Regions from separate parts of the Homo sapiens genome. Here region 1 is linked to region 2. Evidence: fine-mapped expression QTL. A gene starts in region 2. The other region holds a variant in brackets. All regions are shown on one strand. Distances are between the middles of the regions.

Region 1 (2,500 bases), 67 kb before region 2:
AGCCCTGTGTCCAACAGGCTCTTTGGTGCTCACTGGTCCTTTTGACAGCACAAGAGCAGGGAGTCTGGTGTCCTTCTTGGACAACCTCATAACAGTCTGAAGGTCCCAGAGATAGGCTCTAATAATCTTCATCTGACAGCTCAAAAAGCTCAATAATAAGGCCAAATTATAACCCAAGCATCCTTACTTTTAGTTTAGAATTACTGTAAGCAAGATTTTTTTGTTTATTCTTTTACATACTCCATTTTCATAAATATAAGAGTTACCTGACAACTAACTTAAAATTCGAGGGAAAAAAATATCAGCAAAACCCTTTAAAGGCACTTCTTGTGGACTGGAGGTTTTTGAAGACATTTACTATGCCCATGTTACCAGTTTCTCCAGAAGAGCAGAGGAAGTTCACAAATATCTGATATCCCTTTAACTTGGGGATCCAACAAACAGCAATTAATAGAACTTACTTTCTTTAACATAAAAAGGGATTTTGAAGCAAAAAGGTTAATATACCTGGGATTTATCCACATACTAATCATTTTCTTTACTTAAAATATTTATTTTGTTAATTTAGTTGTATGTAAAACACCTTGCCGCATAAAACATGAGACGGCTTTTTTTCACTTCCTTATTCATGAAGCTGTTTTATTTGCCTTCTCCACATGCAACTCCTGGAAACATGTTTCTATTAATCCAGTACATTTTCCCAGCCCCACCATCTTCACCTATCAGTTACATAAAGACAGTAATTTAGGAACCCACCCATATGGCACTTGCTGAAAGTTTATAGAAAGCCACACACAATGGTTCACCTAACTGCAGCAGAATTCATTTTATAAGTTTTTGGTAGGTTTCAGTATTTGTCTATTGCTTTGCTATGCAAAGTGGTAACTGCTTTTTTTTTTTTTTTTTTTTTGAGATGGAGTCTCACCCTGTCCCCCAGGCTGGAGGGCAGTGGTGCGATCTCGGCTCACTGCAACCTCAGCCTACTGGGTTCAAGCGATTCTCCTACCTCAGCCTCCCGAGTAGCTGGGATTACAGACGTCTGCCACCATGCCTGGCTAATTTTTGTATTTTTAGTAGAGATGCAGTTTTGCCATGTTGGTCAGGCTGGTCTTGAACACCTGACCTCAGGTGACCTGCCTGCCTCGGCCCCCCAAAGTCCTGGGATTACAGGCATGAGCCACTGAGCCCAGCTGGTAATTGCTTTTATAACTTTTTATTTTGTAATACTTTTAGACTTAGTGAACAGTTGCAATAGTAGCCAGAGAGTTCTCAAATATCTGGAATGCCCCTCATCCAGCTTCTCCTAATGTTAACATCTTACATCACCATGGTACAATTATCAAAACCAAGAGGTTAACATTGGTACAATTCTATTAACTAAACAACATACTTTTTTTCTTCTCCAGATTCCCAGTTTTCTCCTAAAGTCCTTTTTCTGTTCCAGGATCTAATCCAGGACACCA[T/C]AGTGCATTTACTTGTCATGTCAGCTCAGTCTCCTCTAATCAGGGACAGTTTCTCAGTCTTTCCTTGTCTTTCATGACATTGACATAGTTGACAGTACTGGTCAGGACTTTCATATAGAATGTCCCTCAATTTGGGTTTATCCGATGTTTTCTACTTATTAGATTGAGGTTATAGATTTTGGAGAATACTACAGAGATGATGTACCCTTCCCTTCACACTCCATCAGGGGACATATGCTACCAATATGACTTATTAAAAGTAACGTTAACCTTGCTCACATAGTTAAGGTGAGGTCTGCCAGGTTTTCCCACTGCTAAATTACTACTGTTCCCATCCCATAGTCTATGCTCCCTAGAAGCAAGTCACTATGTTCAGTCCATACTGAAAGGGAGAGTAATGAAGCTTCACCTCCTGGAGGAAGAAGTATCAAAGAATTTAGCACACTATTTTTAATGTACTTTGAAAGGATTAAAAACTATGAAATTGTATTCACTGAATATTACTTTTTTTTTTTTAAGAGCCAGGGTCTTGCTCCATTGCCCAGACTGGAGTATAGTAGCTATTCACAGGCACGATCATTGCACACTACAGCTTCAAACTCCCAGGCTCAGGTGAACCTCCTGTCTTGGCCTCCTGAGCAGCTGTGGCTAGAGGTGCATGCCATTGATCCTGGCTTACAATTTTTTAACATACATAAAGTATGGCATTCTGTCAAAATCTTTAAACTTATGGGGATTTGTGGCTGGAGAAAAATATTTAAATGTTTTCTTTCCTCAGTAATAAGTTCACAGCAATAAAAAATCTGACATTTGCCTTAAATGTTAAGTTGAAGCCTGCTAACATATCTCACCTATTTAAAAGTATATAGCCACTTTTTATATTTAAAATCTTAGAGATGAAATCTACTGAGACTTCAGATATTTCCAAAATTCCAACTGCTTCTAGTCCCACACTTTAATTTTATTTTGATGTATATGCCAAATTATCATACAAAAATAAAGTAAGCATCCAACTTAATGTGGAAAATGAAACAAAT
Region 2 (3,006 bases):
AGCACTTACCTGACTTACAAGAAGTTAAGACTTACAAGAATTTAAATGTACATATTTCAAGACCATATCTTCACATAAATAAGTCAAGAACCTTTCTAGATTAGCATTGCCCAATCAGTAACACCAAGCAATTCTTTGATTCTCAAAATTGTGTGTTTAGATCTGGTTCCCACCGAATGTAACAAAGCCCCAAACACCTCTGGACTTCAAGTTGAAGCCCAGAGCCAGTGTGCTTCTGGCCACCTAGTCCCGAGACTAACATGCCCCTGGCCCCGGCCCGACACACCCCCGGGCCACCTAGTCCCTGGCCTAACATGCCACCAGCAATCTAGTCCGCAGTCTAACATACTCCTGCCCCGTCCTGACAGGCCCCCGGCCACCCAGTCCCCTGCCTAACACGCCCCCAGCCACCTAGTGCCTGGCCCAACATGACCCCGGCCACCCAGTCCCCGGCCTAACACGCCCCCGGCCATCTAGTTCCCGGTCACCCAGTCCCCGGCCTAACACGCCCCCGACCACCCAGTCCCCGGCATAACATGCCCCTGGCCCCTTCCCTACCTCGTCCCACGGCTTCTGGCACCGCAAGGGATGCCGCAGGCCACCACCGGACCCTGAGGCGCAGGACATCCCCCTGGGAGGAATCAGATCCCTGTGGCTGGCGGGAAGGTGGCAGCAGGAAGGGAGGGGTCACGGCGGAGGGCGGAGGGCGGGTCGCAGGAGGAAAGGAAGGAGCGGACTGGGGGCGAAGGTTGGCTAGGAGAACAGGTGGGTACCAAGATGCTGAAAGCGCGGCCGCCGCCGGAGGAGAAGGAGAAGCAGGAGTGGAAATCGGAGCGCTCCAAAAGCGGGCAGTCATTGTCACAGCCCCGGCGGGGCTGGGGGTGGCCTCTCGCAGCCCACGGGCCTCCACGGAGCCTCCGCGCGGCCGCGCTCCCTCGGCCCTTGTCCCGACCCAGCAGCGGCCCCCGGAGGCCCGAGCCCTCGCTTCAGCGCCCGCCCGGCCGCCGCCCTGGAGAGCCGCGCTTACCTCGGCCACGGCTGCCTCCCGCTCGGCCCCGAGCTTGGTCACCGGCTCATGCCGCGGGGCGCGGGCCACCTCCGCCCAGGTCGGATCGGTCCGAATCGCCAGCCGCCACTGCCAGGGCCGAGTCTGGGCTGGCGAGCAGCGAGCGAGGGGCCGGTAACCGGGATCCGGGCCGTCTGACACCGAGCGCACTGCGCATGCGGGAGCTGCCGGGCCGCGCCTCCTGCTGGACAGGAGGAGTCCGAGCACCGCTGCAGTGTTTTCCCAGGCAGGCGCGCTCAGGCTCCGCAGTGAAATGCTCAGACAGCCTCATTCATAATTAAAGAATCCTTAAACCCAAACGAGACACCACGCGTTGCTTATAAAACTAACAAATATGTAGACGTTTTATTATAATCAGTTCTGGTGAGCGTATAACATTCCTGGAGGGCAATTTGGTACTATCCATCAAACGGAAAATGCTGGTACCCTTCATTCCAACAAGCTCTCTGTACGGAGTTTGCCCTATGGATATTCTCAACAATGTTTGTCAAAAAGTTCCATGACAGCATTCTTTCTAATCATAGCGAAATGCTAGACACAATCGAAATAAATTATGGAATTTGATTGATTTGAGTAATGTGAGATAGTGCAATATATTTGGGTAAGGAAATATCTCCAAGATATTAGTTAAGATCAAAGCGTAGTCCAAAACAGCGGGCAAGTCACTTTTAGGTAAACTATGCATATGCAAAAACAAGAGGGAGAAATATATAAAGTAGGTGCTTATATTCAGGCATGTGTATAACTTTTTTCTGGAAGGAATGCAAGAAGAAATGAACAGCTTCAGGTGGAGTAGTTGTCGAGGCGGAAATGGAAGCATTTATGGCGAGGAAAGGTGGCTCACGCCTGTAATTCCAGCATTTGGGGAGGCCTAAACGAGAGGATCGCTTGAGCCCAAGAGTTTGAGACCAGCCTGGGCAGCAGAGCAAGACCCCATCTCTACAAAAAATAAAAAGTTAACTAGGCATCGTAGCACACGCTTGTAGTCCCAACTACTTAGGAGGCAGAGGCAGGAAGATTGCTTGAGCCCAGGAGGTCAAGGCTGCAGTGGGCCGTGGTCGTGCCACTGCACTCCAGCCTGGGTGATAGAGCAAGACCCTGTCTCCAAAAAAAAAAAAAAAAAACGCATTTTTGTTTTGTATCTTTCTCTATTATTTACATGATTTAGCCCTATCCATGCACACTAAAACCGCTGTCATAAAGCAGTAAGTGGAAACTAAAAAATTAAATTAAAATTCAGAGCGATGTTATTGAGAGGTTAATGAAATGACCCCTGGGCCTGCGATGTTGGTTTGGTAGAGTTGTGGGTCTGGCTACAGGATCCAAATCCCTTCTGGTCCCAGATGTACTTTGGCGCCATCTGGTGGAAGTTGTCACTGATAGCTTAAATATTCAAAGTGATGATTCTGAGACTAGATACCTACAGAGGCTTCCGGCAGCAACCTCGATTCCAGGGATATTTTTGTGAGTTAATGCCTGCTTGTCACAGATCTAGGGAGATTGGGATGAGGACATTCTGGGGATGGGACACTCATGTTCTGCTTCCCCACATCCAAGGGGGCATTGCTCTGCTTTCCAAATCAAATCCCCCCTGCAAATGATACAAAATGTAGCACACACCCACCCCATTTGAGAACTGGATGGGTGGAGAGCAGTGACAATCACCACTGGAACTGTATCCAAATTTATCTTATCCCAGGGAATATTGTTTTCACTTTTTGAAATAAGTCAACAATAGCTATCTGGTCTGGAAGATTGTGGCCTCTTTTTTTCTTCTCCATATTTATCTGTATTTTAAACATGTATGTTTTTAATTAATCCTTTGTTCTTTTATAAAATGAGAATTTGCCGTGTTAAAGAACTGTGTGAGGCACAGCCTCACACAATGCTGCCTATCTTCTTCATTTTTTATAACCTTAAACTTGCCTAATGCCTGGCAT

The links. PIP is the estimated chance that this variant, and not a neighbour inherited with it, causes the effect.
Region 1: its variant is the best candidate, but not a certain one, in a credible set for the expression of EXT2 in whole blood (INTERVAL, PIP 0.77).

The regions. Positions count from the first base shown.
Region 1 is chr11:44,160,986-44,163,485 of GRCh38, reverse strand. The region is part of intron 7 of EXT2 (exostosin glycosyltransferase 2); the gene reads right to left. Among named protein-coding and RNA genes, the nearest start is that of EXT2, 67 kb to the right of the region's middle. The variant T/C (reference allele first, on the strand shown) is at 1,464.
Region 2 is chr11:44,093,874-44,096,879 of GRCh38, reverse strand. It overlaps EXT2 (exostosin glycosyltransferase 2), which reads right to left and starts at 1,202. Exons shown (of 14, transcript NM_207122.2): 1 at 1,028-1,202. RefSeq lists an enhancer at 246-295 and a silencer at 716-1,335.